4 linked regions of the Homo sapiens genome follow. The protein of the gene in region 2 interacts with the protein of the main gene of each other region in a pairwise test. Each region holds a gene or a part of one and is shown on either strand. Other genes may lie near its edges.

Region 1 (7,298 bases), on a different chromosome or scaffold from region 2:
ATGCCTATAATCCCAACACTTTGGGAGACTAAGGCGGGAGGATTCATTGAGCTCAGGAGTTCGAGACCAGCCTGGGCAACATGGCAAAACCTTATCTCTACAAACAATGCAAAAATTAGCCAGGCATGGTGGCATATGCCAGTAGTCCCAGCTACTTGGGAGGCTGAGGTGGGAGAATCACCTGAGCCTGGGAGGTTGAGGCTGCAGTGAGTGGAGATTGCACTACTATACTCCAGCCTGGGTGGCACAGTGAGACCCCGCCTCAAAAAAAAAAAAAAAAAGAAAAATTAGCTAGGTGTGGTTGTGCAAACCTGTATTCCCAGCTACTTGAGAGGCTGAGGTGGGAGAATTGCTGAGCCTAGGAATTTGAGGTTGCAGTGAATGATGATAATCCCTGCATTCCAGCCTAGGCAACAGAGAGAGACCTTGTCTCTAAATAAATAAATAAAAATTTTAAAATGAAATATTACTAGGATCACTGTTCATAATAGTCAAAAAGTGGAAACAATTCAAATGTCCATATTCAGTAAAATGGATAAACTGTGGCATAATCATATGATGACTCCAGCAGTGAAAACATGAATGAACTTCAGGTACACATAACAATGTGGGTGACTCACAAATTTGAGCAAATGATCCCAGGCACAAAACACACACAACATGATTCCACTCATATCATTTTAAACAACAGGTGAAACTAACTACACTGTTTAGATATATAGGTGGTAAAACTTTACAGAAAATAATTAATTCAACAGATAGTGATTAACCACAGAGAATAGAAAAGTTATAATGAGAAGGATTCAGTAGGGGCTTCTGGGAGACAAGTAATATCCTTTTTCTTCACTGGGTGATGAAGCTGTTCATACGTGCTCTGTGCACATTTCCTTTTTCCTTTTTTTTTTCTTTCTTTGAGACAGAGTTTCGCTCTTATTGTCCAGGCTGGAGTGCAGTGGCACGATCTCGGCTCACTGCAACCTCTGCCTCCTGGATTCAAGTGATTCTCCTGCCTCAGCCTCCTGAGTAGCTGTGATTGCAGGCGTCCACCACCACACCTGGCTAATTTTTTGTATTTTTAGTAGAGATGAGGTTTCACCATGTTGGCCAGGCTGGTCTCGAACTTCTGACCTCAAGTGATCCACCTGTCTTGGCCTCCCAAAGTGCTGGGATTACAGGCGTGAGCCACCGCACCCGGCCCTGTGCACTTTTCTTATGTGCATTCTAGTTCCACAGTTAAAAGCAGTAATAATATAAAAGGAAAGAAACATAGGGAAAGAGACGGTGGGAGGCAAGCGTGCCACCTCTGCCCTAGAGGGCTCTGAGAGAGGCTCATGCCCCCATTCCCGTGTGAACCTCACACCCTTCCGCCATCCCCACTCCTAACGTGGGTCTTACTCACGCATCTCCCAGGAAGAGGCTGGGCCAGACCTCATCGATATGGTTCAGTGTGGCAGCCTGACGGACCCACAGCAAGCGCTGCAGCGAAGCCAATGTGGGCGGCTGGTAGGGAGATGCCTGGACTGCCCCATGGATCTTGGGCCTCCGGAGGTCCTGCTTCTGCAGTGAGTCCATCCTGGAACAGAGTGGACACCGCAGTGGCTGGAGGCAGGCTCCCAGAGGGTGGATCCAGCTGATGGGGAAGCCCATGGTGCAGTGCCTAGGTGCCACGGGGATGCTGCAGGAAGGGCTTCATCTATTTCACATGAGGTATTAACAAGCTCAGCTGGGGCTGAGGCCTAGAACCCTTCCCCAGGGAACAAGGGAATCAAGCCTTTGTCACTGCTATGGAGCTGGGCAGACCTCTCTCCTGCCCTCTGCTGAGCTGCAGATGTATGAAGCTTTGGCCAAGGGGCCCTTGGAGTTCCCTGTTTGTGGCACTAGTCAGTGCAGATCTCATCCCTAAATCAGCTTGGACTTTGTAGGGATGAAAGCCCCAGATGGCTGTGGCTCTCAGGGCACCCAGGAAGCCCCCACCAACCTAAGCAGCTCATCTCAAGCCCCCTCACCTGCTACTTCCAGTACTCATCCTCAGACCCCCGTCCCCTCCCACTTTCAGGGGCTTGGAGATCAGAGCCTATCTCCAGGTAAGAGGCCAGGACTGTGAACTGGTATTTGTTAGCAACTCCGCATGGAATGAGCTAATGCCTCTTATAAGCCTGATGCCTCTGGCTGGGCACGGTGGCTCACACTTGTAATCCCAGCACTTTGGGAGGCTGAGGCAGGCAGATCAACTGAGGTCAGGAGTTCGAGACCAGCCTGGCCAATGAGGCAAAATCCTGTCTCTACCAAAAATACAAAAATTAGCCAGGTGTGGTGGTCCACTCCTGTAGTCCCAGCTACTAGGGAGGCTGAGGCAGGAGAACCTTTTGAACCTGTGAGGCAGAGGTTGCAGTGAGCTGAGGTCACACCACTGCACTCCAGCCTGGGCAACAGAGCGAGAGTCCATCTCAACAACAACAAAAAGCCTGATGTCTCACTCGTGGGATATCTGTTCCTATTTTACCCAGGAGGAAGCTGAAGCTCAGAATGTTTTAAAAGTGATGCCCAAAGCCATACGGCTCATGAGTAGCAAGGCTGGGGTTTTAGTCCATCCCCAAGCCTTTCAGTTACCATCTTTGGGGCCTCCAGAGAGTGGTCACTAACCCATCTGCTTCCTCAAGGGAGCCTGGTACTGCTGAGCCACACACCTGCCTACAGGCCCTGGGTTTTCCTCCTTACCCCCACGACTCAGGCCAGCACTGGATGTCAGGCCCCACCCGGGTCAGGTAGCTTGTTTCAGGCATCTGCTGGCTGAAGGAGTCAGGGACCCTGCGGAGCTGGATTTTCAGCGGCACCAGAATATGGGCCTGGTGCCGTGTTGGAGAGGGGGTCCTGTCTTTGCTAACTGCCCCTGATCCCCTGGACCAGTGACTAGGGAAGGTGCATACTGGGAAGAACATCTTTTCCCTTTGGTAGGCAGTGCCAGGACCAGAAAAAGAAACAGGCACCCAGGAGGCTGCCGGCTTGGCCAGGCTCACCCAGTGGGAGGCTGTCGGGCAAGGCGGAAGTGAAGACCAAGCTGTCCTCCTCATCCCCCACTGTGACCTCTCCAGGTGGCTGAGTGGCCTGCCACCTACCTGGGGCATGGCCTGGGGCCGGGAATGGGGGAGTGGGTGCAGGGGCAGGACTCTGCCTGAGCGGAACAGGGCTGGGCAGGTTCTGCCCAGAACACAAACACTGTGAAGCGGCTAGAATTCCAGGTGCTGGCTGGGGCGCCCATGGGGGGTGGGGCCTGAGAGCCGACTGAGGCCTTGTGGACTGCAGTGGGCCCTCCGGTCCCTCTAAACCCCCAGGCCTCCTCTCTGCTTGGTATCTGTTTGGGATTGAAGACCGTTGGTTCCATAAACCTCCATGAAGATGGGAGTCTACCTGAAGAGGTGGGAAGAGAACTTCTGAGGCAGGGAGGAGAGCCTGGCTCCCCCAGCACTCTGCCATAACTCATTCTGTGGCCACGAGCAAGTCTTTGCTCCCATCTGGACCACAGTTTATCTTCCCATGCTAGGGATGCTGGACTTAATTTTCAGGATGCTCTGGGGGTCTGACCCGAGAATGAGAGAGGAGTGTCTGGATATGCGGTCACTGCAGGGCAGAGGGCAGTGTAGTGTGGTGGAGTTGGGGAAGCCCCCAGGACCCAGAGGAGTCCAACAGCCACACTGGTCTGGAGCCATCAGGTGGGGCTGCACCACCCCAGGCAGGAGATGGGGCTTTGGGAAGTGGGACAGGCTCCGGGCTCAGGCCTGCGGAGCTTGGCATGGGGTGAGGCTGCCCCCTGGTGGCCAATGGGTGTGTCACAGCCCAGCCTTGCCAGGGAGCAGGCAGCCAGGCTCCACCCCCAGGAGGCTCCAGAGGGGTCAAGGATTTGGGGGCTGGTAGGCCACAGTGCATGCCTCTGCCTCCGAGGGGACCTAGGCCCAGGTCTGAAGAACGGGGCTCTCCCCTGGACTTAGCGCTATGCCTGGTCAGGCTCCACCTAATGCCTTGCTCCCGATGCTCAGGGTGTTGCCCCACCTGTCCACTCTAACCCACTGGGACCCAGCCCATCCCATCAGTCAGAGTCAGGCCCGGCCACCCCCCCAGGGACTCGTCCTTTAAGCCCCAGTCCCTCCCAAGGAGGGGAAGTCGGTGGTTGTGGCAGCTCCGCCGGTTTCTGACACCTGAGACTTGGTCTTCGGAGGGCCCTGCCTGACACTACATTCCATGTCTCCTTGTCCCCAGCTGGGTGAAGCACAGGCCCAACGTCCAGCAGGGCCAGGGCCCGGCCGAGCTCCCCTCCCACTCCCTGCAGTCTTCCTTCTCTCCCTGATCCCGTGCTCCTCCTCGCCCCCTTCCTGCCTCCCCCGCTCAGCAGAGCAGCTGCCTCTGTAGGCAGGGCTTTTCCTGGCTGCTCCTGTGCTGCTGCTGTTTGCAAGTCCATGCACTTCTTTTCTGTGTTTGCATCTCTCCTCCCTGGGTCACTCCCCCGTTTGCCTCTGTCTCCCATCCTCCCCCAGGAAGCTCATGTGCCTTTGCAGCCTCCCATGACGCTGCTCTGTGTGCCCAAGACATCGGGCAGAGGCACAGGCTTCCTTGGGGCAGGGGGCAGCTGTTTGCCATCCACCTCTCAGCTGCAGTTTCAGATAGTCCCCTGGACTTTCTTCCTGCCCATCCTTTCTGACTCCACTCCAGGGAGGCCAGACAGAAGTGTGGCCACAGGCCATGTGGGGCTGGAGATCTCAGGGCAGGACCAGTGAGGAGTGTGGGGAGAAGGCCTGCAGAAGGGTGGCGTGTGGCTGCCAGTGGGGAACAGCTGTGGGTCTCTGTGCTCAGCCTGAGGGTCTTGGGGAGGGCAGACCTGGGTAGAAATCTCAGGTCTGGTACTTGCAGCTATGTGGTCTTGTCTTCACCAAGCCAGTTTCTTCAGTGGGGCTGCTGTGAGAATTCCATGTAATAATTAATGTAAAGCACCTCCCACAGGGTCTGTCTTATGGTAGATGCCCAATAAATGGCACGTCTTACTATTATTATCACTACTATAATTACTCTTACCCTTTCCAGCCCCAGCCATATCCTATGTGGAGGGTAACTTCCCTACGGGACAGTGAGATTTCTTCTCTATCTCTGTATTTCTTGATATTTCTTTCTCTGTCCAGCAATAATTGTTATATTTAGCACTCATCAAGGATGTACTATGTGCCAGACAGAGCTAGGTGCTCACATTTTCTCATTGAATCCTCACAGTGCCTTTATGGAGCAGGTAATATTATCATCCCCATTTTACAGATGAGGAAACCGAGACTCAGAGAGGTTAAGCAACATACCCAGAGTCACATAGCCAATTGATGTGGGAGTCAGGATTCAAACCCAGGTCTCTCTGACTCTACTATACCTTGTCTGCGCCTTCATCTCTGACCCAGTCGGTTCTCTACCCAACCCAAACCCCACCCCTCCCCACACAGGCACAAGTGTCCTGGCCCTCATTACCCAGCATGCTCAGGGACCACATCCTACCCCCCCCAAATTAGGAGCACTCACCCACCTGTGGGAGTATCTGGCCCAGGCTGTGCACTTCTCTGACGGGCAGTTCGTGCTGCTGGCTTTCAGCCGCCTGTCTCCGCACACTTGATGCTGTTTCTATTTTTTGATTTGAGTTTAATTATAAAGCATGCTGTCTACTCCCCTCTTCCAGCCTCCCCTGCCACTCCCAACTTGTCCACTGGTTCCATGGCATGGCCAGTGCCAAGCACAGTCAGGCACCTTTCCCTCCAGGCCCAGGCCTCTGTCCCAGCACTGCTAAGAATCAAGGCAGCTCAGCCCAGGTCTGACTGTGGCATATTGTGTACATGTATGTTGATAGTGGGAGAAGGGGCCGGGCGCGGTGGCTGAAGCCTATAATCCCAGCACTTTGGGAAACCGAGGAGGGTGGGTCATGAGGTCAGGAGATCGAGACCATCCTGGCTAACAGGCTAGCCGGGCGTGGTGGTGGATGCCTGTAGTCCCAGCTACTCAGGAGGCTGAGGCAGGAGAATGGCGTGAACCCGGGAGGCAGAGCTTGCAGTGAGCCGAGATCGCGCCACTGCACTCCAGCCTGGGCGACAGGGCGAGACTCCGTCTCAAAAAGAAAAAAAGAAAAAACAAAAAGAAAAAAAGAGATAGTGGGAGAAGGAAGATCAAATAAACCATTTTAAAAGGTCCCTTGGCCGGATGCAGTGGCTAATGCCTATAATCCCGACACTTTGGGAGGCTGAGGTGGGAGGATTGCTTGAGCCCAGGGGTTCAAGACCAGTCTAGGCAATATAGCCAGACCCTGTCTCTACTAAAAATACAAAAAATTAGTGAGTTGGGCTGGTCGCGGTGGCTCATGCCTGTAATCCTAGCACTTTGGGAGGCCGAGGTGGGCGGATCACCTGAGGTCGGGAGTTCGAGACCAGCCTGACTAACATGGAGAAAACCTGCCTCTACTAAAAATACAAAATTAGCTGGGCGTGGTGGCGCATGCCTGTAATCCCAGCTACTCGGGAGCCTGAGGCAGGAGAATCATTTGAACCCGGGAGGTGGGGGTTGTAGTGAGCTGAGATCACGCCATTGCACTCCAGCCTTGGCAACAAGAACGAAACTCCGTCTCCAAAAAAAACATTAGCTGGTTGTGGTGGCACACACTTATAGTCCCTCCTACTCGGGAAGCTGAGGTGGGAGAATCACCTGAGCCCAGGAAGTCAAGGCTGCAGTGAGCCCTAATCCTTGACCATGCCATTGCACTCCAGCCTAAGCAACTGGAGTGAGACCCTCTCCCTTGGCCTTCAAGGGTATTATAGAAGAAGGGCAGGAAGTTCAAGTTGGAAGGATGTTCTGTGGAGGAGGACAGTGAAGAGGCTAGCCAAAAATCACATGTAAACTGGTGGCATTGCCAACAGCAGGACCCAGGTCCGGGGCCCTCAGTTAGGGGCCAAGGCCGATGGGACAGGTCCAGGATAAAGACCTAGAAGACTCAGGCTGAGGGAAGCAGCACAGGCCCACACACAGACACAGGTGTAGAGCAGGTCTTCAGACAGCCCTGGGCTGCAGGCAGAAGCAGTGTGTCCAGGGCCACTCCCACCCTCTGCCAAGCTCCTCCCCCAACCCAAAAGGCAGGGACACCCAGGCCCCACTGTCCCCTGAGGCCAGAGAGATGGTCTTTAAGGTCTCTCCCCATGCTAACTGTGGTCAGCTAGGACCTTCAATTGGGCCTACTAGAAATCTTCTCTGTCATCCACAGACCTTTGTCATACACACATACCTTGATA
Region 2 (7,209 bases):
ACACAAAGGAGGGGAAGGGCCCAGTGACCCTGCAGGAACGCTGCCCTCTGCCAGCAGCAAAATTAGTGGGCTCTGCTGGGACTAAGCGGTGGAGTGGGGCGGGGGCGGGCACCAGCTGCTCCTTCCCCTTCTCCGAGGGCAGCAGACACTGCTATTTACAGAAGGGCAGCTGTGACTGTCACTCAGGCCCAAGGCACTGGAGCCCTGGGCTTCTGTCCCTGCCCTCTGGGTGACCCCGGGTAAGCCCCACCCCACCCGTCACTGGGCCTCGGTTTCCCTTTCTGACAAGGAGTGGAGTCGGGCTTAGGGGTCTAGGATTTCTCCCAGGGAATTAAAGGCAGGGGCCTGGGCAGGAAAAAAGCCCTAGGGAAGTGTAGGGGTGCTGGGACCTGGGGAAAAAGCTCTTCAGAGAGTAGCTGTGTCCCTGGGAAGTCACTTTTCCAGGGCCCATGTGGCTCATGGGCAATGAGCCTTGGGGAGCCCACACCCCTGCACCCCAGCAGACTGAGAGATGGAGAGAGAGCCAAGAAGCGGCGGGTGACTCAGAGAGCACCCAGGGACAGAGTGGGCCCTGATGCGGGAGGTGGGTGTGGGGTCCCCGGTGGTCCCTGGGGGTGCTGTCGGCTGCTGCACCAGCAAAACCTCCCCCTGCCTAAACCTCTCAGTGCCCAAGGACCTCCACTTCCATGTTCCTTTCGTTCTTGGGACCACCAGGGTGGCAGGTATCATTAGATCGGATTTTTTTTTTTTTTTGAGACAGAGTTTCGCTCTTGCTGCCCAGGCTGGAGTGCAATGGCGTGATCTCGGCTTACCACAATCTCTGCCTCCTGGGTTGAAGTGATTCTCCTGCCTCAGCCTCCCAAGTAGCTGTGATTACAGGCATGTAATCCTGTATTTTTATTAGAGACGGGGTTTCTCCATGTTGGTCAGGCTGGTCACGAACCCCTGACCTCAGGTGATCCACCTGCCTCGGCCTCCCAAAGTGCTGGGATTACAGGCATGAGCCACCGCGCTCGGCCCCCAGTTTTTTGTTTTGTTTTGGTTTGGTTTTTTGAGATAGGGTCTCACTCTGTCGCCTAGCTTAGAGGGCAGTGGTGCAGTCTTGGCTCACTGCAACCTCTGCCTCTTGGGTTCAAGCGATTCTCCTGCCTCAGCCTCCCAAGTAGCTTGGACTACAGGTGCGCGCCACCATGTCCTGCCATGTTAGACCAGCTCTGGCACCCGCCAGCTGGGTGACGTTGGGCAGGCCACACTTCCCTCTCTGAGCATCTGTCTGCGCTCTCTTCTGTAATCTGGGGACCATGTGCTCACCTCGCTGGGGTGGGGTACCCAGAGGATGACAGTGTGTCTGTGCAGATGCCCACCAGGCTGGGGTCTGGACACACTGTGGGCTCTCAGAGGGTGGGCACTATTGTTACAGCTATTCCCACTTTCCAAAGCAGGGGGGCCACCTTGGAGAAGACGTGACACTACTGCCAGGGACCTGATGGCCAGCCCCTAAGAGGGGAAGGGTCAGTGCATGCCAGTGAGCAACAATGTTGGTGACAGCCAGAAAGAAGCCTGGCATCCCCCTGGCCAGAAAAGGACCCCCTGGGCAGGGGCTGGGCTGGAGTCTGGCAGCTGAGCTGGGGAAGAGCAGAGCCCCATGGAGTCAGACACAGACCTCCCAGGGAGCCCTCTGCGAATGTGCTCGGTCACTCCTGCCCTCATCCCTGCAGGCCTCGGCTCTGGGAGGTGCCAGGCACCCTTGGGCTGCAGGAGAGGAGGGCAGGTAGCCAGGCTCTTGAACAACATCAAGAACGGTGCCCTGGGCTGGGCACAGTGGCTCATGCTTGTAATCCCAGCACTTTGGGAGGCCAAGGTGGGGGAGGATCTCTTGAGCTCAGGAGTTCCAGACCACTTGAGCAACATAGTCAGATCCCGTCTTTACGAAAAATAAAAAACATTAGCTGGGAGTGGCGGTGTGTGTGGTCCCAGCTACTTGGGATGCTAAGAAAGGACTGCTTGAGCCTGGGAGGTGAAGGCTGCAGTGAGCCATGATTGTACCACTGCATTCCAGCCTGAGTGACGGCCCCTGTCTCAAAACAAAAAGGAAAGAAAGGCTGGACATGGTGGCTCACGACTGTAATCCCAACACTGGGAGGCTGAGGCAAGCAGATCACTTGAGGTAAGGAGTTCAGGACCAGCCTGGCCAACATGGCAAAACCCTGTCTCTCCTTAAAATACAAAAATTAGCCGGGCATCGTGGTGGGTGCCTGTAAATCCCAGCTACCTGGGAGGCTGAGGCAGGAGAATCCCTTGAGCCTGGGAGGCACAGGTTGCAGTGAGCCGAGATCGTACCACTGCACTCCAGCCTGGGTGACAGAGGGACACACACACACGCGCGCGCACACACACACACACACACACACGGACACACACACACACACACACGAAAAGAAAAAATTAGTGCCCCAGAACCCTTTGGTGTAGCCAGAGGACCCTTCCTCGCAAAGGAAGAACCGGGGTTGAAGGGGTGACTTGTTCAAGAGGCATGACAGGCCCACCTCCCAGGGTCCTGGCACCAAATACTTCACCCTGTCAACCAGATTAGACCACGCGGTCCCCAAAGGCAGTCCCTGGCACCCTCAGCTGCTGCCCAGGTGCCTCCTCTGGTCCCCCCAGGCTAGGTGGGATTATGGGGTAACTCACTTTGGGCGGCACGAAGAACTCCAGGCGGAAGCGTTCCTCGGCCACAGCCCTGCGCAGGAGCAGGCGGCACTTCTGCCACTGAGCCGAGCCCCCGGAGCCCGCGGCCGCGTCGTCGGCCACCATGAAGCGCAGCGCCCCCTCGCGTTGAATGTCCACCAGCTCCACCTTGGCAGCCAGCGTCCGCGACAGCCTCAGGCGCCGCGTCCACTTGTCGCGGGGCTCGGCGGTGCGCGGGGCAGCTGCCGCGTCGGGCTCGGGCGAGGCGCGCCGGTGCCACATGTCGCGCACGCCGTCCACCACGCACAGGCTCATGTTGCGCAGCGAGAAGCCCTTGCGAACGCGGGCCTTGGTGGCCGCGTGCGTGGACACGTCCTCCGAGCTCCGCGAGTGGCCGTAGGGCGCCGCCTTGAGTGCAGAGGTGTCCGCGAGCTCCGGCTCCATGGCCTCTGCGCTCACGGCCGCGCCCCGAGTCGTCGGCCCAGCCACCAGCACGCGGCGCACCTCCTCGCCGAAGACGTCCAGGAAGTTGGCGGCGAAGTGGCGGGAGAAGGAGGCGCCGGCGTCGGGCGTGTCGTAAGCTGGGTTGTCCCGCAGGAAACGGCAGAACTTGTGCGCAAAGTCCACGGCGGCCGCCTGCGCATGCAGCTCGCAGAACTGCCGCCAGTCCGGGACCGGGACCGGGACTGGGACCGGGGCGGCTGCGGCGGGGCCAGGGCCGGCACCATTCATGGCTTCCGTCCCATCGCAGCCACCTGCGGCTTCGGGCGAGAAGAGCGCGCAGTGACTTTCAGGCCTGTGATCAATGCGCCCACCTGTCCCCTCCTTCCAGCTCCCCTAGGACTCTCTGGGGCTGTGTGGGTGTGTGTGTACATGCACACGTGTGTGTTGTGGGACTACAGCAGGCAGCCATTCCAAGCAGCATGGATGTGTGTAAAGAGAAAGACAACTGGGGCCGGGCGCGGTGGCCCACGCCTGTAATCCCAGCACTTTGGGAGGCCGAGGTGGGTGGATCACCTGAGGTTGGGAGTTCGAGATCAGCCTGGTCAACATGGTGAAACCCCGTTTCTACTAAAAATACAAAAATTAGCCGGTTAGCCGGGTGTGGTGGTGCACGCTGTAACCCTAGCCATCGAAAGGCTGAGGCAGGAGAACTGCTTGAGCCCAAGAGGCAGAGGTTGCAGTAAAAATACAAAAATTAGCCAGGAGTGGTGGCACACGCCTGTAGTCCTAGCCACTCCGGAGGCTAAGGCAGGAAAATCACTTGAACCCAGGAGGCAGAAGTTGCAGTGAGCCGAGATTGCGCCACTGCACTCCCGCCTGGGCGACAGAGGGAGACTGCAAAAAATAAGAGAAAGACAACTGGGGAGGCAGGAGGTGGTGTCTGCAGAAGGGGCAGTCCTGCATTCATTCTCTCCCCAAATAGTAGTCTCAGGGACCTCAGGGTCATTCCTGGGGCTGGCAGAAGAGGCTGGGATGATGGATGCTTTCAAGTGGGGTCCCCATGAGCCTCTGGTGACCTCACTTCCTCAGTGACCTCTTCTGATGTTCCCCAAAGCCCGGTAGAAAGGAAGAAATCACATGGAATCCTGCTGGCTGGACCTTTGAAATATACCGAGGACTCAGCTCCTTCCTCCAGGTCCAGGCTGCCGTCCTGGGATTCGCATAACTATTTTTCCTGCATGCAGCACTCCAGCAGCTGCTTTATGGTCCCCGGGATCCTGATCTTACTTCCTCTAAAGTCTGTTCTCCTCCCAGGAGCCCAGTCATTTCCAAAACTCAAGACTGCCATGTGCGGTGGCGCATGCCTGTAATCTCAGCACTTTGGGAGGCCGAGGCGGGTGGATCAGGAGGTCAAGAGATTGAGACCATCCTAGCCAACATGATGAAACCCCGTCTCTACTAAAAATACAAAAATTAGCTGGGCATGGTGGCATATGCCTGTAGTCCCAGCTGACTGAGAGGCTGAGGCAGGAGAATCGCTTGAACCCAGGAGGCGGAGGTTGCAGTGAGCCGAGATCCCACTACTGCACTCCAGCCTAGGTGACAGAGCCAGACTCCACCTCAAAAAAAAAAAAAAAAAAAGCCAGGCGCGGTGGCTCATGCCTGTAATCCCAGCACTTTGGGAGGCCGAGGCGGGCGCATCACGAAGTCAGGAGATCGAGACCATCCTGGCTAACACAGTGAAACCCCATCTCTACTAAAAATACAGAAAATTAGCCGGGCGTGGGGGCAGGCACAGGCTGAAGCAGGAGAATGGCGTGAACCTCGGAGGCGGAGCTTGCAGTGAGCCGACATCGCGCCACTGCACTCCAGCCTTGGCGACAGAGCGAGACTCCATCTCAAAAAAAAAAAAAAAAAAAAAAAAGAGAAGAAAGAAAGAAAAAGTAATAACAAAAAAATTGTCTTGGCCGGGCACATTGGCTTACACATTGGCCTGTAATTCCAGCACTTTGGGAGGCCAAGGTGAGCAGATTGCTTGAGCTCAGGAGCTCAAGACTAGCCTAGGCAACATGGCAAAAGCCTGTCTTTACAAAAAATACATAAAATTAGCTGGGCAAGGTGGCACACACCTGTAGTCTCAGCTATTCAGGACGATCACCTGAGCCTGGAAGGTTGAGGCTACAGTGAGTTGTGATGGGGCCACTGTACTCCAGCCTGGGGACAGAGCGAGACCCTGTCCCAAAAAATAAACAAAAAAAGTTGATCTGAATGTGGTGACATGCCTATAGTCCTAGCTACTCAGGAGGATTACCTTAGCCTGGGAGGTTGAGGCTACAGTGAGCTGTGATGGCACCACTGTACTTCAGCCTGGGCAACAGAGCAAGACTCTGTCTCAAAAACAACAACAACAACCAATCTGGATGTGGTGGCATGCCTACAGTCCTAGATACTAAGGAGACTGAAGTGGCAGAATCGCTTGAGCCCAGGATTTGGAGGCTGCAGTGAGCTATGATCGTGACAATGCACTTCACTTGGTGATAGAGACTCTGACTCAAAAACAAAACAAAACAAAAACAAAAACCCAAAACCAAAATACAAGACAGATCACATCCCTCCTCTGCACAAAATCCTGCAGTGGTTCGTATTACAGTCAGAGTAAAAGCCAAAGCCCTATCCACAGCCCCTAGGGTCTGACATAATCTGCCTCTGTTTACCCCTCTGGATATACCTCCTGCCACTCTTCCCTGGCTGGACCTGCCTCCTTGCCCTCCCAGAAGCATAGCAGCCAAATTTCTACCTCAGGACCTTTGCACATGCCTGGAATGCTCTTTCCTCCACATTCCCTCACCTTCTTCAGGTTTCTGCTCAACCAATGGCTTGGCGGATAGCCTTCCCTGACCACTCTTGAGAATGACAAATCCCTCTGATGACAATACTCCCTCTGATGCGTTCATGCACTCTGCCTATTTTCACCATTATCCTTATTGCCGGCTGTCATATCATATATTTAGTTGCTTGGTTGTGTGTCCCCTCCACCCCCTTCCCCCGAGAATGCCAGTTTCACAAGGCAGGGATTTTGCCAGTCCTAGAAGCGGCTGTGTCCTCAGTGCTGGGCATACAGCAGGCGCTTGGGAAACACTGACTGAATGAACAAATGAATGAGTTTGGCACACCAGGCATGTCACAGCTGTCACCGCCTAAGCCCTCACTTGGGGCCTAAGGACAAACAGCTTGTTAGTGACAAGACAGGTCCAGGGTTCTCGCCCAGGTCTGCAGTGACTCCAGGACTTGAGGGGTCTCCTCCTAGTGTGGATCAAATATGGTAGTTCCCTCTCGTTCAAGGGGTATATGTCCCAAGAACCCCAGCAGATGCTTGAAACTGGCTAATACTGAACCTCTGTATACTGCGTGTGTGTGTGTGTGTGTGTGTGTGTGTGTGTGTGTAGAGATGGGATCTCACTCTATTGATGAGGCTGGTCTTGAACTCCTGGGTTCAAGCAATCCTCTGGCCTTGGCCTCCCAAAGTGCTGAAATTACAGGCACGAGCCACTTGCACCTGGCCCGCTACATTTTTTTTGGATCTAATAACCCAGACAACTCCTAAGTGGCGAGCGGGTCGTATCCAGAGTGCGGATATGCCAGACAAAGGGATAATTCACATCCCAGGCAGAACAGCGGGATGGTTTGAGACTTCATCCTGCTACTCAGACTGGCCTGCAATTTACATTTGTATTTGTATGTTTACTTCTGGGATTTTCTATTTAATATTTTCAGACCTCTGTTGACCACGGGTATCTGAAGCCTTGGAAAGCAAAGCTGTGGATAAGAACCAAGCGTTTTTTTGTTTTTTGTTTTTTTTTGAGACAGAGTCTTGCAGTGTCTCCCAGGGTGGAGTGCAGTGGCGAGATCACAGTTTACTGCAGCCTCCAACTCCTGGGCTCAAGCGATCCTCCCGCCTCAGCCTTCCGAGTAGCTCAGACTACAGGCAAGAGCTACCATGCCTGGCTAAAGGGACCAAGTTTTTGTACGGACATTGAAGACCTTGCTTCTTTCCATCACAATGGCCTGCACGCTTCT
Region 3 (7,790 bases), on a different chromosome or scaffold from region 2:
GCTCAGCAAGTCAGCAGAATCCCTGTGTGCCCAGCCATGCTGTGCCACCAGCCAGGGCCAGCATCCAGTCTGCCCACCTAGCTGTTGTCCTGGGGCACCCTGGGTGTCCCCCACAAGGTGCCTGGGGGCCCAGCTGTCCTGCTTTCCTGCAGGAGGCACCCACCATGCTTGTCAGCGGCATTGACATCAGCTCCAAGGTCCAGGAGGCGCTGCAGGCAGGGCAGGCGCTCAGGCTCCTCGCTGGCCAGGTCCAAGGGGCTACTCTCGTGGATCTGAGCCAAGGAAGCACAGCCAGGTTGGCTTGGGAAGCTGCTCAGGCCCCTGCCCAACCCTGCTTCAAAGCAAGCTGGACCTGGCACTTACCCGGTCCCTCCGATTAACGTCGGCCCCGTGATGCACCAGCAGCTCCACCATGTCCGGCTGGTTCCGCAGGACGGCGATGTGCAAGGCCGTGTAGTAGGTGACTGGGTCTGAAGGTGCAGACACAGCTCATGTGGGTCCTATCTGTCCGCATTCTTATGGGGCCCCCGGACCCAGAGCCCAGCCCCAAACTCCCACCTAAAGTGTCCAGAAGCACAGGCCCAGCCTCCTGTCACCATCAAGGGTTAGGACAGAGCTGTCCTCACCAGATACTAGAGGGCCCTCGGGGTGTTCTAGTGGGCACGCTACTGAAGCTGTTGGGGGCTTTAGTTTCCTCTTCTGTAAGAAGGGACCATAAAACGGGGCGCACCCTCTCAGAATGGCTGGGAGGCCGCGCTACACAGCAGCTCTGGCGGCTCTGCTTTGTAGGCCTGGTGGTAACAGCCAGGTTCTCCAAGCTGGTCTCCAAGTCACTGGCTTCAGAACCGGCCCTCCCGTCTCAGCTCCTTGACCCTCCAGGAGCCCAGCAGACTCCAAGCCCGTCTTCGGATGGGGAAAGGAGACGTGCCTGGCTGTCTCAGGCCCCTATTAGGTCACAAGGCAGCCCTGCCTGTCTGCCGACTAACCCTGCCCTCCCTGGGCTGAAAAACACAGAGAAAGGAGCTCGGCTCCATCTCCATCCCTGGCACTCAGGAGCCAGGAGCCAGGGTGTCCTGTGGTGATTTATGCCTAATGCAGCCTGTTTTCCCCTCTCCCTACGGCATGAGAAAAAAAAAAACAAATTGGCTCAGAGTAAGTAGCAGAAAATTACCTTCCCTTAGCTCTGGGCACAGTGCCAGCAGCCGCATTTTTGCATTAATGGAAGTGGGGATTAATCTGGGAGCTGGGGAAAGTTTGCTAATCAATCACATGGTAGAAGCAGCAACACTCGCTCTTGGAACAGAGGTGGGAAGAGCCATGTGAAAACCCGCAGGGGGTGGGAGGCCACCCAATGGGAGTTTCCTTAGTTGCAGCCACCCAGGAAATAAAGGGGGGGAAGTCACTCCTCAGAGGATGGTAGAAGCCAAGGCTGGGGACATGGGCGCCCACCCAGCGTCGGGCCGCGTTTAAGCCACCTGCCCACCCCCGGGGCTCTCGCTGACCTTCAAAGTTGAGATTGGCCCCATGCCGCAAGAGAACGTCGGCCGCCCGCGTCAGCCCCAGCTCAGCCATCTTGAGCAGGGCGTTGCTCACGCCTTCCTGGTAAAAGGGAGAGTGGGCTTTCCTCTCCAGCAGCTCAGTGAGAACAAGGATTCGGCTCTCCTCGCTGGCGACATAACTGGGCCTGGGACAGGAGAGAGGCTGAGGGTAGGCACAGCTGTGGGACCGGGTGACCGCGCAGCCTGTGGGTTGGTGGGCTTTAGTCCTGCTATCATCATCAGCAAGCAGGGCCCTGGCTCTGTGGGTCACAGGGGCTTGGGGGAAGCTCTGAAGTAGAGAGAGGGCCACGCTGCATCTCTTAATACGGGAGCAGACTGGGATTTGCGGAGAATGGGCTGGGTCTGTCTGCGCTCTCCTCCCGCGTTGCCCAGAGTCCGGTCGCAGACTTAGGTACAAAGCCTCACACACCTGGGCTGCTGGGACTGAAGGGACCACCAGCCTGGAGGCCAAGAGCCCAAGCCCGACTTTGATGCTTCTTCCTCAGAAAGCCCTTCCATCCTCAAACCCGCAGGACCCCAGCCCCGGCAACACCTGCAGCCAGGACAGCAACACAGCCTCCTCCCTCCCCTCACATTGAGACCTTCAGCTGATATTGATGAAGAAAGCCTACGTTTCCACCAGAGTCCCTGGATGGCGAGACTCATCATTACCACGTGTTGGAAATACCAACTGACAACCCCCTCAACACCTGAGCCGAGCCCCTTCCTTCTGCTCTCCCCTCCCTTCCACCTCGCGTGCCGCCGTACAATTACTTGTCAGTCTCTCCTCTGGAGCACATGCGCCAAGAAGGCGGGGGTTTTGCTGAGCCACTGATGGACCCCAGGTGCCTAGTACCATGGGCAGTGAATGCAGATTCGCTCCCGACCCCTTTCCTGCAGGTCCACGACAGACCAGCTCTTGTCTATAAAAACGCAAACTCTGCTACAAAAGCCCACCTTCACACTGCTCTGGGGTAACATCTGAGGCCTCACGGATTCCACCCTGCTCCTCTGCCACGCCGGGGGGTGGCACAGGACAGGCAGGCGACAGGGTGGGGCTGAGGCGCAGGCCCTGCGACAACCCGCGGGCCTCCGCCCTCGGGCCCTCCCCGCCCTTCGTCTCCGCCATGCAAGGGGCAGGAGTGGGATCCGCGCGGGGCAGCGCGCACTCCGAGCCACGCAACCCCGGCTTCCGCCCGTCCCTTCCTCTGTCAAGGGGGACGCATCCACCCCGCCCGGCTTGTGGTGATAAAGTGGGACGCTGCGGGGTCGGAGCGGCCTCGGCCAGCTCACGGGAGGGGGTGAGTTACCGGTCCAGAGACTCCTGCCGCTCGGGGTCCTGGATCCCCAGGGAGCCCAGAATCGCATCCACCAGCGGCTGGTACTCGAAGATGATCCTCCGGAAGCCGTGCAGGAACGGCATCGCCGCGGGCCCCGCGCAGCAGGGCCGTCGCGCTTTCTGCCGAGGCCGAGATGCCCAGACGCCGACCGGAACGCTCCGGCGGCCGCGGACCCCACCTGCTCCGCCAGTCCAGCCCCTGCGCCCGGCCGGGTCCGCTCCTCAGTCCAAGCCGCGCCCCCGCCGGAAGTGACCCTCGTACTTCCTGCCCGCGCCGACTCAGGGTGGGCCATATGGCGACAGCGCCCCCTGCGGGCTCGGAGGACCTCGGCGCGTCCTGGGGCACGACCGCCAGGCCGACTCGGGCGATGTCCAGTGGGCGGCCCCAGCGGAGTGGGAGAGTGGAGGATCGAGCCAAGCCAGATCCGAGACTCAGGCGGGTCCGCCCCTTCCTGCCAGGGCCCGGCCCGGCTCGGCTTCGCCCTGCGATCCCGCCCGCGACCGCTGGGCGCCGTCCGAGTTCCGCCGGTCGTGCTCTCGGCCCTGCCGCTGCCCCACTGGCCCTGGGCGCCCCTGAGAGCTGTGGTCATCAGACACTGCCCCTTCCGGTTCGGGCTGGCCCTCGCCTTCCCTGAAGAGGGGCTGGGCCACCTCTGTCACCACCCGGCCCGCTGACTGGAATGATGAGGACCAGGGTACTCGCACGTCCCCTCCTCAGTTTCTTATTCTCTGTCCCGGGGAGCACCTGGCCAGGACGGCTGCTAGCCCTCTCCACCTCTGCCTTGATGGACTCAGTGAATCTTGTTTTTTGTTGTTGTTGTTTTTGTTTTTTTGGGGGACGTAGTCTCGCTCTGTTGCCCAGGCTGGAGTGCAATGGCACGATCTCGGCTCACTGCAACCTCCGCCTCCCGGGTTCAAGCGATTCTCCTGCCTCAGCCTCCCGAGTAGCTGGGATTACAGGCGCTGGCCACCACGCCCAGCTTATTCTTGTATTTTTAGTAGAGACAGGGTTTCACCATATTGGCCAGGCTGGTCTCGAACTCCTGACCTCGTGATCCTCCCACCTCGGCCTCCCAAAGTGCTGGGATTACAGGCATGAGCCACGGTGCCCAGCCCGAATCTTGTGTATTTTTTAGAGACAGGGTCTCACTCTGTCTCCCAGGCTGGAGTGTAGTGTAGTGATCATGACTCACTGCAGCTTTGAACCCCTGGGCTCAGGTGATCCTCCCGCCTCAGCCTCCCGAGAAGCTGGGAACACAGGAGTGTGCTACCGCCTGTCTCTGAACTTGGATTTCCTCATCTGTAAAATGGGTAGAATCCCCAGCACTTTGAGAGGCCGAGGCAGGTGGATCACCTGAGGTCAGAAGTTCGAAGCTGCAGACCGGCCTGGCCAATATGATGAAACCCTGTCTCTACTAAAAATACAAAAATTACCCGGGCGTGGTGGCAGGCGCCTGTAATCCCAGCTACTTGGGAGGCTGAGGCAGGAGAATTGCTTGAACCCGGGAGGCGGAGGTTGCAGTGAGTGGAGATCGCACCATCACACTCCAGCCTGGGCAATAAGAACGAAACTCTGTCTCAAAAAGAAAAAAAAAAAGTATAATCACACTCACCTGAGATGCTGGAGCCAGCGCACTGTAATTGTTGGTGGAAGTGGAATTCAGTGGGAAGGAGCCAAAACCCTCTGGTTCAGGAAGAAGGGGCGGAGTGGGCAGCCGGGTTTAAGCCCCTTTAGGGCAACACCAGCTTGGGCTTCCTAGAAGCAGCTCCAGGCCGCAGAGTCCACAGCTGCCAGCACGTTTCTGCCTTGGTTCTCGCTGTAGGAAAGAAATTTCTCCCTGGGTGAAATCGGGAAATTCTGCTCACATGGAAATGGACATTTCCAGCTTGCCTTGGAAAAACCACTTTTCTGGAGTCGAGGCACCTCCCCTTGGGCCATGCATTTGAGCCTCCTCTCCCACCTGGAGTCTGCGTGGGGGGGCCTTGATGCCTTCTTGCTTCTGGGAAGCTGATGATGAAGAGGGGTTTCCCGCCCCAGCAGTCCACATCACAGCGTTGGCCTCCTGGGCCTTGCTCTGCCAAGTTGGGCCCCTCTCCCTGGAACCTGCCAGACAGCGAGAGTTGCCCAGCCCAGGAAAAAAACATTTAAAGGCGCATTTCAAGACAATCCGATGGGTCTTAGAGTAAACATTTTTATATTTATTTATTTATTATTATTATTATTATTATTTTTCAGACGGAGTCTCACTCTGTTGCCTAAGCTGGAGTGCAGTGGCAGGATCTCGGCTCACTGCAACCTCCAACCCCTGGGTTCAAGCCTACCAGGTAGCTGGAATTACAGGCATGCGCTACCACGCCAGGCTAATTTTTGTATTTTTAGTAGAGACGGGGTTTCACCATGTTGGCCAGGCTATTCTCGAACTCCTGACCTCAGGTGATCCACCCGCCTCAGCCTCCCAAAGTACTGGGCTTACAGACGTGAGCCCACCACGCCCAGCCAGATGAAACATTTTTAAATGGGCAGAGTAAGGCCCTCTACCATGTGCAAAACAAACTGTACAAGAAAACCCAAAGCAACGAGCCTCAACCGGCAAGGTTGAGGGTGTGGCAGCAGCGGCTGGTAACTGCTGGCTCTGGTTGTTAAAGCTGTTGTCAGATCCAATGACAGGCTCTCGGAAAACCACCTCCGACGCCAGGCATTCAGAGTGCCTCAGTTTGCTTCCTCTTCCATTACCTAAAGGAGTAGGAAGGAGGGGTGGGGGTGGGCAGCTGGGTTCAAGACCCTTTAAGGCAACACTAGCTTGGGCGTCCCAGAAGCAACTGCAGACTACGAGGGCCCACGGCTCCCCACACATGTCTGCCTTGATTCTTGCTGAGGGAAAGAAGTATCTTCCTGAGGGAAATCGGGACATTTTGCTCCCAGGGAAATGGAGATTTTCCAACTTGCCTTGTAAAAATCAGAAGGGCCCAGATTCTTACCAGACAGCGATTTGCATCCAGATGGGGTGCTTGCCCTGGGTGCACCTGCCTGGGCATGACTCTGAGCGTTTGGAAGTGTCTGCCCCTGCTTGAAGGGTCCCCCTCAATGGATCGCGAGGCCCTGAACGGTACAGCCGCTCTCAGGCGACCCAGGTCTTCACAGCCCCTCTCTCGTTTGATCACACAACACATTTGATCACGTGACACCATGCCCGTGTTGAGTCAGGCCTCGGTCTCCTCACCTATGTGATGGCCTTTGGCCCTCAACCCTCAGGAGACGGAGGCCTGACTTACCCAAGGGCGCATGGTGAGTAACTGCGGGAGGTGCAGTCCCGTGGGGTCCCGGTGGAGCTGGGTGGGCTGACTTCGTCTGAGCCCTGCTTTTGCCCTAGGGCTGCTATAACAAGGTGCTGCAGACCTGATGGCTTAAAACAACAGAAATTCACTCCTTTACAGTTCTGGAGGCGGAAAGGTCAAATTCAAGGTGTGGGCAGGGCCACGCTCCCTCCAAAGACTCCAGAGAAGGTCCCTTTCTTGCCTCTCCCACTCCTGGTGACCACAGGGGTACCTCGGCTTGGGACAGCAGCACCCCAGTGTCCACCTTCCTCTGTCTCCACACAGCCTTCTTCCTGCTGTCTATGCCACTGTCCAAATCCCCCGCTCCCTTCTTTTTCTTTTTCTTTTTTGTTTTGTGTTTTGAGACAGAGTCTCGCACTGTCGCCAGGCTGGAGTGCAGTGGTGCGCGTGTGCCACCACCCTCAGCTAATTTTTTTTTGTATTTTTAGTAGAGACAGGGTTTCACCATGTTGGCCAGGATGGTCTCGATCTCTTGACCTTGTCATCCGCCCGCCTCTGTCTCCCAAAGTGCTGGGATTATAGGCGTGAGCCACCGTGCCCAGCCTTCCCCCTCCTTTCTAAATGGGCATGGGTCACTGGATTTATAGGGCGCACCCAAATCCATTATGGCCACATCTTAATTTGATTACATCTGCAAAACCCCTTTTTCTGAACGAGGTCACGTTCCAGGCACCAGGACTAGGACTGGAACATATCTTTTTGGGGAGCACACATAAACCCACTGTCACGAGTGACCCTAGGCATGGCCCTTCTGGTCTCTGGGCCTCAGTTTCCTCACCTATAACCTGAGGGCCCTCCCAGCTCTGACAGTCTTGGAGCCAATGACGAACTCCTTGACGTGGCTGGTGGGCTCCGCCGACAGAGAAGGAGTGAGGAGGGGGCCATTATAATAACAACAACACGAGCCCACTTGTATTTACGGAGACCCTTGTACATGCCAGGCACTAGATATGCTGAATGTTTGGTGCACTGATCTCCCTAAATCCTGTTAAGTAGGTGATATTATTACCCCATTTTACAAAGAAACGGGCTCAGAGAGGTTTGGGCGCTTGTCCCAGGCTGCACTGTGAGGTTGGGCCTCCAGCCCCGGTCGGTGCAACTTTTCCACGCTTCCTGCCTCCGAGACTCGAGTGTCCTCAGCTCCTCCAGCTCTGGGCTCACGAGTCTGGACATGCAGGAGGGGGAGCTAACCCCCGCCCTCTCACAGCCCTGGGGCACCACCCTGTGGGGCTGGCCCTGCTGCCTGCCCGCCGCCCAGGCTCCTAACTTTAGAGGGCTTTGTGCCCCCTGACCTCCCTCCTGTCAGCAAGGGCAGACTTGTTTCCTCCATCTGCCTCCCATTAGGGCTCTGTCACTCAGAGCCCCTGGTTCCAGCTCTCCGCTTCTCTCTCTTTTCCTTGTCACTGCCACTCACCGCCTGGCCAGCCCAGCCCCTTCCTGCCACCCACCTCCAGAGATCTTCAGCAGGATGGGGGTCCTGGGGACAAGGACCCAGAGCTCAGCCCTGTCCCTGCCTCCTAGTCCTCGGGGAGTTTGGGAGTCACTCCGACTCGTCAATGTACAGAGGGGGATGACCT
Region 4 (7,072 bases), on a different chromosome or scaffold from region 2:
TTCCTTGTTCTCCACTTTCCCCTTCATATAACCTTAACAGTTCGGTGAAGAGTTTATTTCCAAATGTCCACGCTACCTTCAGTGCCTCCATTTTTACTCCCTCCCCTTCTTCTCTATTATTTCCAAACCTCAGATTGTCCCCTCACCAAGATTTTCTGACGGTCTCATCTTTTTTTATTTCTGAAGTACCCCATGACAACCTTTTCCCCTGCAACCACCCCTTCTCTCTGCCCTCCTCCTCTCAAGATGATTTTTGTGTATTTTCTACTTCCGTGGCAGGCACCCTGTGATGTCCTCTTCTTTTTGCCAGTGCTCCCTCCCCTATGCTGGGTGGAGTATCCAATCAAATATCTAATACATAATATTTTCATCATATATTCTGATCGTATATTTCAGTCCCCCCCAAACTTATTTAAGTGTCTCTTGAATTTTCACACATCCTATGGTGCTCCCTTCCCCGGCCCACTCCCCAAGACAGGTCACATAAGGTTTTTTACATTTTCATGGCACTTCAGGCTCGTTCTCTATCCCAGCATTTACTGCACTGCCAGTTTACCTATTTTTCTTTCCCACATAATCTAGAACATTCTTTGGACCTGGAGGATGTGTACTAGGGAGTATCCCTAGAATCTAGACTGGTGCCTCACATAACAGGTGGTCAGAAAATGCGCAAGATGTACTATTCGTTAGGCTTTTATTTTTCTCTATGTTCTGCAGTAACTAAGGAAAATCATGGTAAATGTCAATCTTCACACAACAGCAGACACAAAGGGTTTCAGAAACGTCAGATATGAAGAAATCCTCCATCCTTCTTCAACATTTTACTGGGTATTTCAACTTCAAAAGAACAGCTTATTTCTATAAGTGCTGTACAAGATCATAGATTATGATGGAACGACTTCATTTTAGAACGTTAGCAAAACTGTTATACTAAATGTCAATGACAGGAAACAAAGAAAAAAATTTGTTCAATTATATTTTTAAACATATTGTTATTCTCAACAAACGGAATTTTAAAACGAATACAATTTTCCATTATCAAAAGCAAACACTCTATTTCGCAGTTGAACAATGATCACTGATCACAAATATCAAATACAGTGTCCCCCGCCCCCAATCGACATCATTTTCAACTTAGGACCCTGGCATCTACTCCTTGGGGTACCTGTGACTCTCTTTTACACCCCCAAGGGTCTGCCTCAGATCTACTTAAGGGGCGGAATAACCCCTAGCACCTGAATTGAGGATAGCCTCAACCTCTGCATCATCGTCCGAATCCCAGTCATAATTACAAGGCCAGTCTTTAGAGCATCGGTTACGAACCCTTGCCACAAAATGCATGACTTTCAGTTTGCTCGATTCCACGTGTGCTCGGGGCCCCCAGAAGAACTCATACTCCACCGGACTGCTACGGGGCACCGGTTTATAAATCAGGTACCCTCTGCGCACAAACTCTTCTGTGACGATCTTCTTCGGATCTCCAAAGATGCTGTGCTGACGTCCAGGCTGCATTCCTAACTTCCCCAGCACTTTCCAGACCAGAGCTTCCTTGGCGCTGTTGCCCATGATGAAGATGAGCGCTAATATAGACATCAGGAGACTTTTCTTGGTGCCCTGAAAATTGCTCCGGGGCACTGAAGGCTTTTGTGCTTGGGCAGTGCTCGAGGCTTCTTCAGGGGTGGTAGAGGCCTCCTCTGGAGTGCTCGGGTCTTCCTCGGGGCCGCTCAGGTCGTCTTCGGGGGTGCTCGCTACCACAGAGGCGGCCATAGGGGTCTCGGAGGCCTCTGAGGCCTGGATTTTGCGATTGTTGCGGTTCTCTTCTGCGGCTCTCGCATTACGGCGGCGCCGACTCTTTCGTCCCCGAGGCATGTCTCCTGCTAGAGGCTCAAAGCTTACAGCAGTCCTAGGGAAGGATGCTTGTAGCCTCTTCAGGAAGCAACAGCTTTATACCGTAAGAAGCTGCTGCCGCTGAAGCTACCAATGTCAATAGAGTCTTTGTAGCAATAAACAAGCCGTTCTCAGCTACAAAGGGTAGTTCCCACGCCAGCTGACTTGCGCGAGCAGCCGCCGCCAGCACTTGCCGCAGCTGCAAGCCCGCGAGAAAGCTCAGCAAAATTGGCCCCGCCTCTCCTGCCACGCACACTCCTAGCACCAAAGAGGAAGTAGGCTGGTCCTCCACAGGGACTTCCGCTAGCAGATAGGAAAAGGGGCAGGCAGCGACAGGGGTGGGACAAGGGCAGAAATGACAGCTAGAGATTGGAGGGGCCTGGAGTTTGCAGAAGAGAAAAAAATAGCTTAAAGTTTCTGTATTTTCAGCCTACTACAAACATTCCAAGATTGGCTCGACGGTCTAGGGAAGGAGTGCGTCGGCTCCATTCCCACTGACGACGGGCTGTGTGTGTGTTGGGGGTTGGGAGGCCAGGGGTGGCGGGAGGGTGTATTCTTGGAAGGAGTCAGCTGTCTCCAGCCTTCCTTTCCTGTCTTGGCTTACACAGCGCGTTCATTCACTCGCCCTGTTTTCAGAAGGCATTTGTGTGTATACTAATCAATTTGTGGTCCCATGTAGGACCCGGATAATATTGTTATGGCAGATGTGCTGGATGATGTGAGGAGATGGGACTGCAGAAACAAGCAGGGTGAAAGAGGTGCAGAGCCTTTAAAATGTGGTAGATATATGCACGATATATATACTGCCCTGCTTTTATACATACATACATACATACCTATATCGTGCATATATCTACCACATTATGTTTATATACAGTGCATATATCTACCACACATATATGTATGTATGTATGTATGAAAGCAGGGCAGTGACAGGATCAGAGGAATTGCATTTGTGCAGCCTCTCAGAAAAGCAAACTGTTTCCTGGCAGACCACATAGGAAGCAATTGGAATAAGAAGCACTGGGAACTAAAGTATGCCTTAAGGCTGTTGCCATGGGGATGGAGAGGCAGAAAGACATTTTAAAGGTGACCGTTGAAGGGCTTTGCAGACAGAATGGATGAAGTGGGGAATGTGGAGGGGATGATGGAGTTCAGATTGGCTCCAAGGTTTCTAGGCTCCAGTCTTCCTGGACTCCTGATTTATTTTGCTTCTTTCAGAGCATACTCTGAACTTTATCCACTGCTTGCTTTTGCTCACTGTTTGCTCTGCCTGACCTGTCTTCTCAGCCTTCTCCAACTATCTAAATTCCATTTGACTGCTCACAGACCTGTTTCTCCCTGAAGCTTGTCTTGATCTGCCCAAAAGGGTAATGAGTCCATTTTTACTCCATTGAGGAAAGCCCTATAACTAGCACTCTATATCTTTCTTATGTCATTCAAGGTATTAGTTTAAGCAAGTCACTTCTCTCTAAGCCTGTTTTCCCATCTATAAAGTGGGGCTAAAGTACAGCCCTCATAGGGTTGTGAGAATTAAATGAGATAAAAAATGAAAAGCATTTATTACATGGTAAGCACAGATTTTGCCTCTCAAGGTTTTCCAAGCGGTGTGTGAGTGTGGCATTTAATAAATGCGTGCTGAAGGAATTCATGATGGAAAAGATTTTATAGGTGTTCTTAACTGAACTCTTAAGAAACAAATGAATACTTTATGCCTGTCTTGCTGAAATTTTCTTTATAATTAGAGCCCACCGAGACCTCCTGTTGGGTAAGTTAGCAATAAATCAATTTGGTCAAGCAAAGAAAGCACCTCTCCAGGACACAGAGCACTCTTGAGCCAGCCCTCCGTTTGGGATAACCTTTGCACGCGTTCTGGGACATGACCTACTCAAAACAGTAGTCTGGCTCCATCTGCTGTCCCACATTCTGAGAATTCTCGCAGTTTCTGGTCCATTGATAATTGCTCTGAATTGTTTTTCAGTACAGGTATGAACTTATTTTACTGTTTCCAGGAATTTGGGTCTTGCATGGAAGTCTATAGCATGTACAATCCTACCCTCATGAAACAAAAATGGGAGGATTACTTTTGCAGTTTATTTGCTTGTTTTTAGCATGAATTTTTTTTTACTGCGACTTAATCTCAAACGTAGGGCAAAGAAGAGAGATTAATATTATAAACACCAATAGCTAGCTGTATAAAATTTAAATATTAGGCCCTACTTACTGTTTATCTTTTATATATTGGATATGGCAAAACCCTCCTATTACGTCTTCCCTGACCCACTCTGCTCTCTCCTTCCCCACTGTGCTCCTCTATAATGAAGTCAGCAATTATGCCCATGGAGACTTGTATATATTTGCTACCTACTTCTGTGTCTGTACACAATATAGAATCTCTTCCTTTATTTAAAGCACGTCTTCATAATGTATACATTGATCAACACTTTGGTTTTCCAGCTCAACTTTATATTTTTTATGTTTACCCATGTAAATACATGGAACTCTAGTTCATTTATTTTAATTTTGTACATTTCATCATTTTCAATTTATCCTGTTCCTAATGATCCACGCCTATGCAGTTCCCATTTTTCCAAAACAAAATAATACTCTTATTAATATTTGTGCGCATGTTCCCTATGAACATGTGCATGCATTTCTCTAGGATCAACATCAACGAGTAGGGTTGCTGATGTGTTGGCATGTATATGTTTAGATAGAACACATGGCTTTCCACTTTGTTTCATTTATAAAAATCAAACCATTCCATATTGAATTTCCAGGCAAACCTTTTTCCTAATTAATAATGAAATCTCCTCAATTTATACCTCTAATTCTTTCATTCTAGTGGCTGAATGTTATTCCTTGCAATGGATTTACCATAATCTCTTCAAGTGTCTGCCTGTTGGCTGGGCGTACTGTATTTCCAACTTATTTAATTTTCTTTTTCTATTATTATTATACTTTAAGTTCTAGGGTACATGTGCACAACGTGCAACTTTGTTACATAGGTATACATGTGCCATGTTGATTTGCTGCACCCATTAACTCGTCATTTACATTGGGTATTTCTCCTAATGCTATCCCTCCCCCTACCCTCCACCCCACGACAGGCCCCAGGGTGTGATGTTCCCCTCCCTGTGTCCAAGTGTTCTCATTGTTCAATTCCCACCTATGAGGGAGAACATACAGTGTTTGGTTTTCTGTCCTTGTGATAGTTTGCTCAGAATGTTGGTTTCTAGCTTCATCCATGTCCCTACAAACGACATGAAATCATCCTTTTTTATGGCTGTATAGTATTCCATGGTGTATATGTGTCACATTTTCTTAACCCAGTCTATCATTGATAGACAGTTGGGTTGGTTCCAAGTCCTTGCTATTGTGAACAGTGCCACAATAAACATATGTGTGCATGTGTCTTTATAGTAGAATGATTTATAATCCTTTGGGTATACACCCAGTAATGGGATCACTGGGTCAAATGGTATTTCTAGTTCTAGATCCTTGAGGAATTGCCACACTGTCTTCCACAATGGTTGAACTAATTTACACTCCCACCAGCAGTGTAAAAGCTTTCTTATTTCTCCACATCCTCTCCAGCATCTGTTGTTTCCTGACTTTTTAATGATTGCCATTCTAACTGGTGTGAGATGGTATCTCATTGTGGTTTTGATTTGCATTTCTCTGATAACCAGTGATGATGAGCATTTTTTCATGTGTCTGTTGGCTGCATAAATGTCTTCTTTTGAGAAGTGTCTGTTCATATCCCTTGCCCACTTTTTGATGGGGTTGTTTGTTTTGTTGAAAATTTGTTTAAGTTCTTTGTAGATTCTTGATATTAGCCCTTTGTCAGATGGGTAGATAGTAAAAATTTTCTCCCATTCTGTAGGTTGCCTGTTCACTCTGATGGTAGTTTGTTTTGCTGTGCATAAGATCTTTAGTTTAATTAGATCCATTTGTCTATTTTGGCTTTTGTTGCCATTGCTTTTGATGTTTTAGTCATGAAGTCCTTGCCCATGCCTATGTCCTGAATGGTAATGCCTAGGTTTTCTTCTAGGATTTTTATGGTTTCAGGTCTAACATTTAAGTCTTTCACCCATCTTGAATTAATTTTTGTATAAGGTGTAATGAAGGGATCCAGTTTCAGCTTTCTACATATGGCTAGCCAGTTTTCCCAGCACCATATATTAAATAGGGAATGCTTTCCCCATTACTTGTTTTTGTCAGGTTTGTCAAAGATCAGATGGTTGTAGATTTGTGGTATTATTTCTGAGGGCTCTGTTCTGTTCCACTGGACTGTATCTCTGTTTTGGTACCAGTACCATGCTGTTTTGGTTACTGTAGCCTTGTACTATAAAGTCAGGTAGCATGATGCCTCCAGCTTTGTTCTTTTTGCTTAGGATTGTCTTGGCAATGTGGGGTCTTTTTTGGTTCCATATGAACTTTAAAGTAGTTTTTTCCAATTCTGTGAAGAAAGTCATTGGTAGCTTGATGGGGATGGCACTGAATCTATAAATTACCTTGGGCAGTATGGCCATTTTCACGATATTGATTCTTCCTACCCATGAGCATGGAATGTTCTTCCATTTGTTTGTATCCTCTTTTATTTCATTGAGCAGTGGTTTACAGTTCTCCTTGAAGAGGTCCTTCACTTCCCTTGTAAGTTGGATTTCTAGGTATTTTATTCTCTTTGTAGCAATTGTGAATGGGAGTTCACTCATAATTTGGCTCTCTGTTTGTCTGTTGTTGGTGTATAGAAATGCTTGTGATTGTTGCAAATTGATTTTGTAACCTGAGACTATGCTGAAGTTGTTTATCAGCTTAAGGAGATTTTGGGCCGAGACAATGGGGTTTTCTAAATATACAATCATGTCATCTGCAAACAGGGACAATTTGACTTCCTCTTTTCCTAAGGGAATACTCTTTATTTCTTTCTCTTGCCTGATTGCCCTGGCCAGAACTTCCAATACTATGTTGAGTAGGAGTGGTGAGAGGGGGCATCCTTGTCTTGTGCCGGTTTTCAGAGGGGATGCTTCCAGTTTTTGCCCATTCAGTATGATATTGGCTATGGGTTTGTCATAAATAGCCTTTATTATTTTGGGACATGTTCCATTGATACCTAGTTTATTGAGAGTTTTTAGCATGAAGGGCTGTTGAATTTTGTCGAAGGCCTTTTCTGCATCTATTG

The links.
Region 1: the proteins of SH2B2 (region 2) and DUSP13B interact in binary tests that used the Homo sapiens proteins (3 or more experiments, as listed by UniProt).
Region 3: the proteins of SH2B2 (region 2) and ASB6 interact in binary tests that used the Homo sapiens proteins (3 or more experiments, as listed by UniProt).
Region 4: the proteins of SH2B2 (region 2) and MAGEH1 interact in binary tests that used the Homo sapiens proteins (3 or more experiments, as listed by UniProt).

Annotation. Positions count from the first base shown.
Region 1 is NC_000010.11:75,096,313-75,103,610, forward strand, and holds the start of DUSP13B (dual specificity protein phosphatase 13B), read right to left. Parts: upstream 3,201-7,298; 5' UTR 3,126-3,200; coding exon 2,719-3,125; intron 1,574-2,718; coding exon 1,400-1,573; intron 1-1,399. UniProt on the Homo sapiens protein: Dual specificity phosphatase that dephosphorylates MAPK8/JNK and MAPK14/p38, but not MAPK1/ERK2, in vitro. Exhibits intrinsic phosphatase activity towards both phospho-seryl/threonyl and -tyrosyl residues, with similar specific activities in vitro.
Region 2 is NC_000007.14:102,296,762-102,303,970, reverse strand, and holds part of SH2B2 (SH2B adapter protein 2), read right to left. Parts: intron 3,450-7,209; coding exon of another isoform or gene 3,421-3,449; coding exon 2,692-3,420; intron 1-2,691. UniProt on the Homo sapiens protein: Adapter protein for several members of the tyrosine kinase receptor family. Involved in multiple signaling pathways. May be involved in coupling from immunoreceptor to Ras signaling. Acts as a negative regulator of cytokine signaling in collaboration with CBL.
Region 3 is NC_000009.12:129,639,039-129,646,828, forward strand, and holds the start of ASB6 (ankyrin repeat and SOCS box protein 6), read right to left. Parts: upstream 3,114-7,790; 5' UTR 2,962-3,113; coding exon 2,849-2,961; intron 1,685-2,848; coding exon 1,503-1,684; intron 471-1,502; coding exon 364-470; intron 273-363; coding exon 164-272; intron 1-163. UniProt on the Homo sapiens protein: Probable substrate-recognition component of a SCF-like ECS (Elongin-Cullin-SOCS-box protein) E3 ubiquitin-protein ligase complex which mediates the ubiquitination and subsequent proteasomal degradation of target proteins.
Region 4 is NC_000023.11:55,447,172-55,454,243, reverse strand, and holds MAGEH1 (melanoma-associated antigen H1), read right to left. Parts: upstream 2,118-7,072; 5' UTR 1,870-2,117; coding exon 1,210-1,869; 3' UTR 678-1,209; downstream 1-677.